Regions from separate parts of the Homo sapiens genome. Here region 2 is linked to region 1. The links come from fine-mapping of genetic effects on gene expression. Tissue or cell type: pancreas. Region 1 holds a variant in brackets; the other region holds the start of a gene. All regions are shown on one strand. Distances are between the middles of the regions.

The links. PIP is the estimated chance that this variant, and not a neighbour inherited with it, causes the effect.
Region 2: ERBB4 starts here. The variant in region 1 is fine-mapped to the expression of ERBB4 in pancreas (GTEx, PIP above 0.99).

Annotation. Positions count from the first base shown.
Region 1 is chr2:212,279,607-212,288,029 of GRCh38, forward strand. The region is part of intron 1 of ERBB4 (erb-b2 receptor tyrosine kinase 4); the gene reads right to left. Among named protein-coding and RNA genes, the nearest start is that of MIR548F2, 140 kb to the right of the region's middle. The variant G/A (reference allele first, on the strand shown) is at 4,458.
Region 2 is chr2:212,536,055-212,541,599 of GRCh38, forward strand. ERBB4 (erb-b2 receptor tyrosine kinase 4) reads right to left here and starts at 2,748. Exons shown (of 28, transcript NM_005235.3): 1 at 2,395-2,748. The coding sequence starts at 2,476. RefSeq lists an enhancer at 1,279-1,779.

The sequences.
Region 1 (8,423 bases):
TCTTCAGATTAATTTTAAAAGATAGCTTTTGCTTTTTTAATTAATCAAAAGACCTGTGGTATCATCCTTCTTCAAAAAATATGCCAATATGAGTCTTACTTTTCTTTCAAAAAGTTGGTGAATCTTGATCTTTTTTATTGTTTGTGATGAAACAGACATTTCTTTTTAAAATTAAATTCCAACGTCGTGAATGTATAGGTCATTGGTTTCTAGAGAAAGTCTTTAAATTAAGGACAATATTTTAATCTAGAAAAGGATACAAAAAGTTGTTGCATATAGGCCAAAAATGTTTAAGTGTGAAAGAGAAATGTAATTACATTATAAAGTTTTAGAAAATAATTATTTATCCTAACAAAACTCATTCATTTCAAACAATAATCAAACAACATCTAGAATAATTTTGATATCTGCAATTGAATTGCAATGTAAAGAAATTTTCTTCAAAAAGAACTTGAAAATCTGCCTCAGAAGATGGGAAATAAATTATTTGAAAAATAAAATAAAATCCTAAATCACAATGTGATACCAACACAGACTGAGTAAATAATAAAAGGTTGTACCTCATTACCTGTTTGAACAACCAGCCACCCAGTTGCTCTCAAAAATATAGTAGTTGTTAGATATATAGGCAATTTTTGCTAGTAGAACATATTCATTAATTTTTTCCTGTAGCAACCAACATATTTTTAAGGCAAGACATGAAAATCCATTATTTAATTTATCTGTCAATGCCTTGGGTCTGGGCATCTGATCTCCCCACTTGGAATGGTTAATTCACCAAAAATGTCTGAGACAAAAAAGCCAAAATTCTTTAACACTTGCTGAAAGGTTAATGAAGAATGAAGTGATTCATAGTTTTCCCCAAAGTCAAGCATGTAAAAATCAATATTCTACATCTTAAATTTTTTATATACAAATTAAGCCAAATTTGGGCCAATCACCTTTTAGACATAAAAAGAGTTGCTCCTGAACATGCCTCAAATGTCTTCTCTGCGTTTCTGTTGCTGTTGTTGTTGTTTTCCTGAAGTAGGCAACATTTTTTATCAGGAGTATTACAGTTAGATAACTTTATTCACACTGAAGTAGATTCCAGAATAATGAAATCATTGGCAGAAAGAAGCAAACCACAGTGGAAAAAGATGCAGGCATGAAGTAAAAGCATCATGAATTGAATGAAACTAAAGATGGACTAAAGTCATAGAAACTGTTAAAACCAGGAGGACCCTAGAGATGTTCTCACTCAAAGCTCTCATTTTAGGAATCAGAAACTGGGGATCAGAGAAAGTGTGTGGCTTTCTCATGATCAGAAGAACCAGACCTAGATCCGAGGACTTGACACACTTGGTTTTGTACTGTCTATACTCCGTCTTTTGACACTTAATGAAATTAAGCAGGAAAAAGATAAGAAAATTTTTTTTGTAAAGTCACATTCCTCTAGGAATTATTTACTAAAATTCTTCTTCACAACTCCCCCTCAGAAATACTGAAAGCCCTTCTTTTTTTTTCTAAAAAACATATTTGCAATTTAAGAAATCTTCTGAAACCGTCACAGATCTCAATTTGCTCTTCTATTATCATTAGTCTACTAATTTCATTAATATAATTTAACTGATTTTCTTTAAGAGTCTGATGAATTTGCCTCCCTCTTTCCAAGATGTTTAAAGCACTATGTGAATTACTTTATTTGTAAAATGTAGAAGTGAGATGTTACGGGAATTAGTGTAAAATTTTAAAAGTGTGCAATAGGTAAAAAGTTTTCCCTCAAGATGTAAAATCCTACAAGACTAAGACTTCTAAACAAATGCCATCCCCAGTCACATATGGATATTTGGGAAACAGAAATCATCCACAGAACTGTTGATTCCTCTGTGAGCTCGCATTTTTAAAATTTCTATTTGTAGTAGTCAGGATTACCCATTTCATTTACATCAGTTGCTCTAGCTCTCTGTGTTCCAGCCATTTGGGTCACTCTGGTTTCTTTCAGTTCTTTCCATCTTGTTCTCTCCTTACAAGGCAAGCATTTAAATAGCTGAAGTGTATTGTTTCTAGAAAATTTCTGCATTGAAAGCCTTGAAGTCTCTATGGCACATTATGTGGTTCATCAAATAACCTGGAGCTTAAATTAGTATATTATTTTTCCATAATTTACCAAATAGCATCTTTCCATCTACTTAAATTCTGAGCCTATATGTGTGACATAGTAGAATTTTAGGCCTATTTACCTTCCAAAATAGTAACAAGGGTAATTTATGCAACTCTGCTTCAATGTGTTATAAAGTGTAAAAATCAATTGTCTAACCCAGACTGCAAAACCTATGCCACTCAATACACGATACGTTTATAAAACTAAAAGTCAAAAAAAGTATGCATTGTGTGCCAGAGTATAAAAATATATTTTAAAAATCATTTGATAACATGCCCAACATTGCAATGAACAATTTGATCATTTAGAAGTTATATTTGAGAGAATGCCAAAATTCTCAGGTTATCATAATATTCTCTGATGGTCACTAAATAACAATGAAGTGAACAATTCTACCATCTGGACTTTGTTACGTAGCCCGATGCTGCCCATAGAAAAGATTAACCTGGCAGGCACCACAGGGATATGTATTTTTTCAATTCCCTCATTTTATAGGCAAGGCAAATAAAATTCAGAAAGCTAAAATAATTGTAAACTTGGTTACAAAGTGACTTGGCAACAGAGCTGGGAGTAAAACCCAAGTCTCTGAGTTGTTCATTACAAGCAGGCTACTTTCACCTTTGAACTCTGGAAAGCACTTTTTAAAAAATATTTCTCTTTATCACAACTGCACTTGAGGTAACTCAGGTGTTATCGCCCTGATTTACTATGGGAAGATACAAACTCTATTTGATTATTCGACTTGTATGAAGTAACCCAGGGACCTCGAGTGTGTCCATCATATTTATTTCATAAACATTTCAAGGCCAATAAGGACAAATAATATACTTGTTATTTACTATGGACAAAAATAATGGGATATATTTTATACCACTTCATGAGTGGTTTTCCAGCTTGGCTAACCTCCATAATCATTAGAGTCACTTGAAATCTTCTGGCTTTGCCCCAAACCCACTGAAGCAGAATCTCCAGGGAAAGTGCCTGGGAATTTGTATTTTTAAGTGGCTCCCCCAGGTGACTTTGGTAATTAGCCAAGTTTAGGAAACCTTGACAATATCACTGGAAGTAACAGGATGTTGCCTTACGTGTTCAGAATGTTCAGAAGCAAAATGTACCTATTGTAAAATTGACCCAATCCAGTTTCTCTCTTTTACAAATGGGGAAAGATAGATGTCTTTGTCACAAGTGGGTAGACAAACTGCCAAATACCACCTATATTTTTGGGTCAGAGACAGATTGGAACTCCACCAAGAGAAACTGGGCATTCATACTCGGTCTATTTCCATGGCAGGGACAAAACAATTCTAATCTTACTGATCATTTCATTAAAGAATAAAGCAATCTCAGGGCATTAACTGCTGACAGTAATGCAGACCATGGATTTCACGGATTAACCAAACCACAAACAATCTAGAACATGCCCACAGAACAATTCTTTGTTTGTGTAGTACAGGAGGCAAAAAAGCAATCAGTATGACTTGAACTGCTGGGTTTAATTACTCAATATAACACTTGCCATTTAAAAATCCGTATGCCCATCAGCATGGCAACAGTCTCTCATAAAGATTCCGGTATCATATGGCACAATTTGTACGGTAATCCCACATTTCCCAAGCACTTTCACATATATTAGTGCACCTTATCCTTACAATAGCCCTGTGAGGTAGATAGTAATTATTGACAAACTGAAAGGTTTGTTATAATTAAAAGTTTATTACTGGCAGAATGCAAATATCCTGAAATGTATCTGATATACTCTTGGTTTCATGCAAAATAAGATATGTATCACCCCTTAGAGTTTGTTAAAACAATTTTAAACCCTAAAATATTCATTAAGTTTTTTTAATGGAAAATGATTCATGCAATGCTAGTTTAAATGCTGAATTTGAGGTTAAAAAAGAAAATGTATCAAGTAGTCAGCCTTTACTACTTTGAATATCAAGCATACAGATCCTGATTTATTTCATCAAAATGGTTTCCTAGCTATACCAAAGGCTAGATCCTTTTCCCTATACAATGGCTCAGGTGAAAAATAGTTACTATAGTGACATACCACAGTGAAGAGTTGAAAATTTGAAGTTTTCAAAAATTAATATTATGTTTGTTCACATGCTAATTAAAATGAATCCACAGTTGTTATTCCTCATTGTTATTGTTTATTGACACTTTTACCCTTTCTCTTTCCTAAAGCCTCAAACTCTCTAAATTTTGGCAAAACTTCTGTGTTATTCTTTCTGTGAGAAAAACTTCAAATAAACTTCCAAAATTTTTTTTCTGGGTACAGTGAACATAGCTAGAACAGTTACTATGTGAA[G/A]AGAATGCTATTAAAGTCAATTATTACAAAGAAGCACTTAGACACACAATAATTTATCAAAGTTTTTATTCAACGTAATATTATCAACAGGTTCAGATAAGAATATAAGTTTTTCTCATGGGAGAAACTCCATCTGAGTCTCTAATTAAATAACTTTTGTATAGTTCCTTTTCTTCTCTGCACAAAAGATCTTTTTTCTGTCCATTCTTGCCCTCCTTCTTTCTTTGTTGATACTATTTACTCCCAAGCCTGCCTCTGAACTCTGTCTAATTAGCTCTTGATAGATCTGCTGCCCTGTTTCCACAAACATTTAATTCTGCCGTCAGTCCCATTTACATTACAGCATGTTGCATTGTCTTTTACCAGCCTAATTTTGTTTGAGTGAATGTAAATCCCATTAAGCAGTCACCTATTAGACTATGGCATATAAACTCCAAAAGCCTCTTTATTACAAGAGTGAACATAAGGCCCAATTGATAAAAGATTTCTGGGGCATTTCCATTTGTGGTGTACTTCAAATATTCTGTCTGCTTTAAACTTAGCTCATGTTTTTGAAGTATTTGACAGACTATTTGAGTATCTTTTTGCCTGTGTATTCCATAGCATGAAATACATAACCATCATTTGCTTGTTGTCTTTAGAAGTTTACTTATACCTAAACATAAGTTAAATATGTATTTCTTCCTCTTTAGTTATTTTATTTTTCCTTTGTAACCTGACCACATTATTTTTGAGCACTGCATAAAGGTGTTTACAAATAACAGGATGGCTGGCAGAATCTTCTCGGAAAAGCTCTTTATGAATACTAAATAATTGTCCAGAAGTTCAGTAAGCCTCAGTGTTTTAAGCTGAACTTTCTGGAGAGAGGTAAGACATAGCATCTTGACAGGCAGCCCTTCAAATGGCAAGTAGCTATGGGCATCAGAGACAGACAGGTTTCTCTTATAACCTTAATGTAATTTGATAGCTCAAAACGAATAAAAACAAGATGTAAGATATCATTAGAAGCCTTGGAAAGACCAGGTGGTCTGATATTTACATCAATATGATCAATATACTCAATCAGATTAGTGCCAGGTACCAGTTTTAAATGAAGGCTCAGTTATAGACTTTCGCCAAAACAGAGATAATCATTCAGCACTATGGTCACATAATCACGTGGTTGAAGGTAAGGGTGAGAATGGCTCTCTTTCCATTTCCTCCTGGTAATTAACTCAGAAAGACATCCATGAAGTGCAAACCCTCACACACAAAATTATTTCTCACCCCTGCAGGCTTGTCAAAGCCAATATTTCAGAAAAGCACAGGTTGCTGAAGGGGACTGTGATTTTTTTTTTTTTTGCCTGCTGTGAGTCCCTAAGGACAACAAACATTCTAAGAGAGACTGTAGCCAAAATTGCTAATAACTTCACACAGTTCTTTTGCCATAATGACAAAATTCAAGGGAAGACTGAATAGAGTAGTGGGTTAGGTGGTAAGCCAGTTATTTGAGCAGGAATGAAAATATATATGGTCCCAAATGCTAGTTACGAAGTCAACCTGGATTAAAAATCTAAAAAATGATTATGACAAATATATGGAATGCAAAGTCAATAACAGATATTCAGTTTGTTAAAAATGAGGACTTACAATATTTTAAGAGGAGGAAAAATTATAAAAAAATTGAGCATCAAAAATTGATTTATAAAGTAAGAATTTGCATCAATACCTAGCCATACCTACAATATACAGCTTGGTATTCGAGTAGAATAGATTTTATATAACTCTAGACTCTCTAATATTCAGGCTCAAAAATACCCAGTAATAGATATCAAAACAAATTTCTTGGATGATAGGCCCCTTATTTCTTTCTACATATGTTTTGATTTGGGTCAATGGCTTGGCTAGATATTATATGTATGATTTGACATGATTGTTTATCTTTCTGTCCTTTACATAGCATTAAGGACATTTATTCGACACAGATATAGTCAAATGTCATAATGGGCAACATGAGTTACACGTTGGCTCCCTTGAGTGTCTCCTCATAATCACTTCAAATCTTACTGAGACCGAGATTTCAAAGCAAGAGGTACATATTAATTCAGGGTTACTTGTTAACAAAACAGGCAGCTAACTACTATTACATTGGTTCTTACGGTTTACTGAAGCATTAAACATTAACATTATTATTATGAAATACAACCAATATCAGAAGGAAATTATTTTTTAAAACAGTACAAATATTTTAAGTGGGCCTACAAGAAACCTTAGTGATTCATAATAAGTATATTGAACGAATTTGAAATTCAGTGAACACATCAAAGTTTCTAGACCCACATAAGTTTCTGTACTACCCATAACATTTATAAAAGCAACTTCAGTAACTTTTTCAAAAAGGTATCTCTGTGTTATATCTGGACACAATACATATAAAATATAAATATAGATGGGTTGCATAACCTCTCTGAGCCTCAGTTTTCTCTTTTACAATGGAGAAAATGCATATTAAAGTTGTTCAGATTAAATGAGATGATTACATAAGTGCTGACTTTTTTTTTTTTTTTTTTTTTTTTTTGACACAGAGTCTCGCTTTGTTACCTAGCTGGAGTGCAATGGGGCAATCTCGACTCACTGCAGCCTTGACCTCCTGAGTTCACACAATCCTCCTGCCTCAGCTCCCCAAGTAGCTGGGACTATAGGCGGGTGGCACCATGAGGGTTAATTTTTTTTTTTTTTTTTTTTTTTGTAGAGACGGGATTTCCGCCATGTTGCCCACGCTGTTCCCCAACTTCTGAACTCAAGCGATCCGCCAGCCTCTGCCTCCCAAAGTACTGGGATTACGGGCGTGAGCCACCGTGCACAGCCAGTGACTTCTTAATATATATCCTAAAGCGCAAGAGGCACTGGATATTTGTGGAGTCTTGATAACCACCAGGGAGGGGCCCAAGGTAGGAGAGAACAATTGTTCTGAGAGACAAGTAACCATAAACAACGCGCTGACACAACGACCTTGCTCCACAGGTAGCCCAAATGGCACAACCTCGATCAGCATGTAGCCCCCTCCAGAAGACCTTATAAAACTTCCCTCCAGCCCCTGCCTCTTTGCAGACAGCCCCTTCTCTGTAGTGCTACATATTGCACCCTTGCAATGAATTTTCATACTTTCTCTAATAAATGTGCCTTTATTTTTCTCCCCCTACAACTGTCTTGGTAAATTCCTTTACCACCGGCAACACCAGCCCCAGCCAGTCACACTTGTAAGAGTACTCAGCAGTGAGCAACACTTATTTTTCACAGAGCTATAGGTGAGAAGACAGACAGAAACCCATATGTAAGTATAACTTTTGATAATTTTTGTCACAAACAGTAGTAGCCATAGTTTTGCCTCTCAAATATGCTTTTTGTTCACCTTTCTATTAACATAATTTTTTATGTTTTAAAATGAATCTGCTCCAAAAGATTCTTGTGAACTGATCCCTCTGCCTACTCCAAACAGGGGGTAACCTAACAGGCTTCATCGCTAGTCAATGAGATGACCTTATTTCCCTATCAATAGTGATAGGAGGTATCCAGTAAGAGGCGTGCTCTTTGCAATAAAAACACAACTATGGATATAATATGAAAAAAAATAACTGCTTTGAACCTTTTCTGTCACAATTCCAGAAAAGACTGCCTAAGAATTAGGCCAATAAAAAAGAACGACATTATGTCCTTTGCAGGGACATGGATGGAGTTGGAAGCCATTATCCTGAGCAAACTAACATGAAATACTTAACATGTTTTCACTTATAAGTGGGAGTTAAATGATGAAAACACACGGACACATAGAGGGCAACAACACGCACTGGGGCCTTTTGGAGGGTGGAGCATGGAAGGAGGGAGAGGATCAGTAAAAACACCTAATGGGCACGAGGCTTAATACCTGGGCTATGAAATAATCTGTACAACAGACCTCCGTTACAAAAGTTTACCTGTGTAACAAAC
Region 2 (5,545 bases), 260 kb after region 1:
GTCGCCCTCTGGCAGCTTAGTTTACTTATCCGCACTTAATTTCTCATTTGGACCAAAACAAACTCCTCCAAACTGCTACTGACTGCTAACCGCGAGAGGGGAGACGCGCAATATGTATTTAGTTGGGAACACACAGCCACACACATACATAGGCACAAACACACACAGCCTCACTCATACCCCAGACAGTAACTTGTTTTTATAATAGCACTGCATTAAAACCAGCTGAACTTTCCCTGCCAGGTGCGGCAGGGTGGGGGTGGGGGAGGATGAAAAACGAAGTCCCCCGGGGCATTTACAGTTTCCAATGGATCACCTTAGTATGCGTGTTGCAATTATACCAGGGATGCACCCGAGAGCTTTTCTTTGTGCGGCCCTTTCATCTGGATCACTTTGTGTTTTGAACAAGTGAGGCTCGCCTTTGTGCCCCCAGAATTTCAAGTACAGAGTCACACACGGAACAACAATGGCACGCTAATCCTCGCGCTCTAAATGGGCTCACTTGTGGGTCTGACAATTCGCCCAGGGAAACGAGAAGAGACGAAGCGAGGGCGCGAGCTAGTGTCGCCTGAGACGAGGAAGAGGACAGCTGCAGAACTAATTTGGATTACATTCCTTGCAGAAATTCTGAAAAGGGCTTTTCGGCATAGCTCAACTCGGAGCCGCACAGTTAATACCAAATTGCTGCGGACTCGGAGCGGGGTCCCCCAGTGGCAGAGGCTGAACCAGACAGCCCCCAGTAGGTCGCCTCGTAGAAATTCCTCTCGGCTAAGCCTGCATGTCGGTCGCCAATGCCTTTGAATGGGTCAATGTGCATAATCAACCCATTGAGGGAAAATATGAAGGGACTCGAAGTGGGGAGGGAGATAAAAAGAGATGTATCTAAGAGGCCGCTTGGAATGTCAAGTCCGTGTTGGTGTGATTCCGGAGGTGGCTGGAGCGCGGGACCTGGTATGCGTGAAGAATTTCGGAGTAATTGGGAGGGTGCAAACGGCCAGCACAAACGCCTCACATGTGCCATTCGAAGGTCATTTTGAAAGACTCGATAATTGTAACTTGTTATTTACTAGGCAAAGGAGGCGGCGGCGGCGGCGGCGGCGGAGCGGGAAAACTACAGCTAGCCGTTTTCTTGGTGAGGTCAGAAGGACACCCTCCGGGGGCCTAAAGCGCTCCCTATCGCCACTCCCGGGGGCTTTATCACCTCAAGCTACTTCCCACGCTCCAGTCACCATCCCTGGATGGTTTCGGAAATCTCTCTGGCTCTCCAAAAGGCACCCCTTGGCCACGTCAAGACACCGGTCCTCCTCAGACCTCTCCCGTCCCACTTTCATCCCCAGGAAACTCTAGTGTCAGAAACTTTGAGCTCCATTGCACTGCAGGTGCTGTCATTAGTCCTGCAAGCCGTGGCGGGCCAGCCCCGCCGCGCTGCCTCTCGGGGTCAATTAGCCCTTTGCCTGCCCAGGTACCTGGGGCTCGAGCTCTCCAGCAAGCAGTGGCCGCGCACCCATCGCCGCTGCCGCTTTCGCCTCGGGTGGATCCAGTGACCCGCAGGCTCGGCAGCCTGGCCGGGCAGTAAACAGACAAGTTTGAAGGACTCCGGCCAATAGCAAGTTGAACTACAGGAAGAACTCTTCCCGGAGCCAAACACGGCAACCGACGGGAAGGCCGGGCTTCTGGCTCAAGTGTGCCAAGCCTTTTTTTTTTTTTTTAAGAGGTCAGGCAGGCGAGTAAGCGCCCCTCAAGTCAATGGGGAGAGGGCTCCGGGAAGCCGGCGGAAGAGGCCCAGAACTCCGGGCCCCGGACCGAGGCGCGCCCGCCTGCTGCACTCCGGCTGCCCGGGCTGGGCGCGAGTTGCGTCTGACGCCACAAGGCTCGGGCGACTGGGGGCGCAGCGGTCGCCAGCAGCACACACAGGTGCAAAGCCCGATTTTCTGAGCGCCGCTCTCCACCGCCCTTCGGGCTCGGCTCGGGAGAGGCCCAGCCAGCACCGCCCCAGGACCGCGGCCCCGGCGGTGCGGGTTCTGCCCTCGGGGACCCGACAGGGACAGAAGAGTCTCCTCTGACTGGGGATTTGGGTCTCCCATGTCCCGAACAACAGGCGCCACCAGAAGGGATCCCGCTTAGGCTCCCAAACAAAACGCTCGGGAAAGAAAAGCAGGGGGTTAAGGAGAGAAAAGAGGGACTCAGAGTGATTTTTCACGATAAATAAAGCAAACGCACACATACAGGGTAAGTTTCAAATGGAAAGAGGGGTGACCGAAAGCCCAGGGAAGAGGCCCCGGTCAAGCGGTCCCTCCACGCCTCCCGGGATGGGTGAAGAGGGCAGGGGAGCCACTCGAGGCAGCCCCGCCGGCGGCTGCAGGTTCGGCGACCGGAGTGCCAGAAGGAACCCACCTGACTGAGAATCGCTGGGCTGGACGGTCCCCGCCGCCACGAGAAGGCTCACCCAGACCCAAAGTCCTGTCGCCGGCTTCATTTTTTGGAAGTCTCAGATCCCGTGCTGACAATTACATGTCCAAATGGCATATCCCCCTTTCGGGCACGCGGAGGAGATCCCCCAGCCGGGCGCGCGTGGGGGTGCGAGGGGGGCGGGCGCGGCGCGCGCGGTGTGGCGACTCCCAGGGCGGGCGACCGAGTCCGCGCCCGCGGGTCCAGGGCCGGGGCCCGAGGAGGGGGCGAGTGTGAGCGCGTGTGTGCGCGTGTGGGAGTGTGCTCGGTGTGTGCGCTTGGCGCTCTGGGCCGGACTGTGCAGCTATTTCCCCGCGTGAGCCTTCGCTTGCTCGCTCCCTCCTCACTTTCTCTCTCTCTCACTGGTTGGTCAACAATAAAAAAGGAAGGGGGGCGAAAGGTTTCCAAAAAAAGTTGATTGCAAAGAGGCGGTAGGTTTCCGGCCTCTCCCCGCAGCCGGGCTATGTTCTGCTCCTTCTTCAGTTTCCTTGCACCTCCAGTCCAAATCGGGAGGGGAGCGGGGCGGGGGGAGCTTCTCGCTTCTCCCCGGATCCCGTCCTTCTTTTTCCTCTCAGCTTTCCTCACACTTGTCCGGCGGCTGCGGTAATTAAAGCTCCGAGCGTCATTTCCAGCGCTCCGCGGTCTCCAGCTGCAGCCCACAGAGAAATTAATAAGACTCCAGAAAAAAAAAAAAAAAAGGTGCGGGGGGCGGTGGGAATAAAACAACCCTCCACGCAACCAGGCCGGCTCTGCTCAGCCGCGCAAACCCCGCCCATGCTCTGACCCAACTAGCCACGCCCTTCCCCCCCCCTTCCAAAGGGAAATCTTATTGGCTCAGCCACTCCCCAAAATCCTGGGCCTCCGGAGTTGGGAAAACACCTGTCAGGGAAAGGGAGCCTCTTGGTGGGGGCAGGGGAAGCTGGATTTAAAGGGCTCACCGAAGCCATGCACTGAAGCACTCGTCTTCCCTCCCTGGCAGAGGCCTGGGACAGCTGGCCTGCTGAGTGGACGGACCATTGGAGGGCCGCTTACGGAAATTTTTTTTTTTTTTAAACAAGAAAGTCAGCATTTTCTCCGTTGCCCCACGGTGCTCATCTACAGACAAGACTTTCCCTAGAAATAAAAGTCAATGTTGCTTTCAGCAAAAAGCCTCCGCCCGCAGTACTCTGCCACTCATGGTCCACAATTAGAAAGTACTTTAAAAGTGTGTACAGCAAGTAACTGGTAGCCCCTGAGGATTAGGTAGTGGTAGGGGTATAATCACCGCCCCGCCTCCCGCCCCCAGTTATGCCATCTCTCCGATTACTCCCACATTTCTAAACTGACCAACATTGAGCCAAACTAAACTTTCACATTTATAAAGGCATATCCTTTGATTTTTAGATTTTATGTTTTTTTTTCACCTTTGGAGTTCATTCTTATTAAGCAGATTCTAGTCCAAAGCCACTGATTTGATCTTAAAGGGCTAGAAATTGTCCCCAGCCTGAAAGAATTTAAGGAGGCCACATCAGAACATAATTAACCTTAAATGATTCTGTTTATTCTACAGTAGACCCAGCTTTAGGCCCCTTCCTTGTCCTCACTCTGCACATTCATGGTCCCTAATCTGGAGGTCATTGCTAGTTACGAAAGTCTCTGACCTTTTCTGAATCTAAAATATTCTGGGACTGGGTCATTTCAATGTACATATCCCTTGCCTTTTACAGCTCTGAAACCGCACCCTGGCAAGGGCCAGAATCTGCTGGGGGTAGTTATTGGTTTGCTATTTGTACAGGCATTCTATGTATGAATCACTTTCCTTTTTTGGTTTTTCTAGAAGCAGCAAATATATAAATAAAAAGTATCAGGGGAGCTTAAAAATCAAACCACCCTGCCTTTCATTTGAGACCTTGATCTCCATTTCCCACTCTCTTATCTATAGCCCCATCCCTTAAGAATTTCCATGGAGCTGAGAACAGATAGGAGGTACAGATGCCTGAAGCCTGAAGCTTTCCCTTTCTTAGACCCACAGCAAATAACAGGCTCCATGAAGACGCCCAACAAGCTGAGCGTGCGGTTTTACCAGAAGCAGCCTAGGGCAGAGAGGAACTAAGCCTAGAGCAGATGACGGAGACTTGACCAGAATGGTACTGATTGCAGCAAAACTGTGCACACTGCTCTTTGGGATTATCTTTGTTTTCTTTTCTTTTCTTTTTTTTAATTACTCTTTCTCTCTGTTTTCTCTTCTTTCATTCAATCTCTTCTCATTCCCCTTGTCTTAAATCCTTTTGAAATTCTCAGGCACCTCTCTTCCATAAAAGCTACTTCTTTTCAAAACTTACTTTCTGTCCCTAGAATGACAATTTAAATGAGAAAAACATCTTCCTTTTGTAAAAGTTTAAGTCTCTGTAGTAAAAAAAAAAAAAAAGTCTGGTTTCTGATGGCAATTATGTTGCACGAAGTGAAGGAATGGGCCAGGTGTGGTGGCTCATGCTTGTAATTCTAGCATTTTGGGAGGCTGAAGTGGGAGGATCCCTTGAGGCCAGAAGTTCCAGACCAACCTGGGCAACATAGTGAGACCTCAACTCTACCTTTTTTTTTTTTTTTTTTTAATGAGCTGGGTATGGTGGTGCACACCTGTAGTCTTAGCTATTGGGAGGCTGAGATGGGATAGAATTGCTTGAGCCCAGGAGTTAATAGTTACAGTGAGCTATGATCATGCCACTGCACTCCAACCTGGGAGATAGAGCAAGACCCTATCTCTGAAAAAAAAAAAGAGAGAAAAAGAAAAAGAAAAAAAAGACAAAGTGAATAAATGAGTTGCATATTTTCGCTTAAATTGTAGGGCAAAAACTTCATGGCCTGAATATTTTGGATTTTTTTATAGTTGTGCCAATTATGTTAGTTTTTGTTCCCCTGTCAATTTTATAGCTTTTCTATAACAGAATATCTTCTATATGCCCTGCTCTCACCCATATCTTCTAGAATAATTCTTGACAAAGGAGGATTTTCCATTAATATTCATTGGTTTAAAAAAACACTTAGTATATATTTTTGTGGATATTAAACAGCCCATACAAGGATTCACCTATTACATTACCCAACATACCCACAGTTT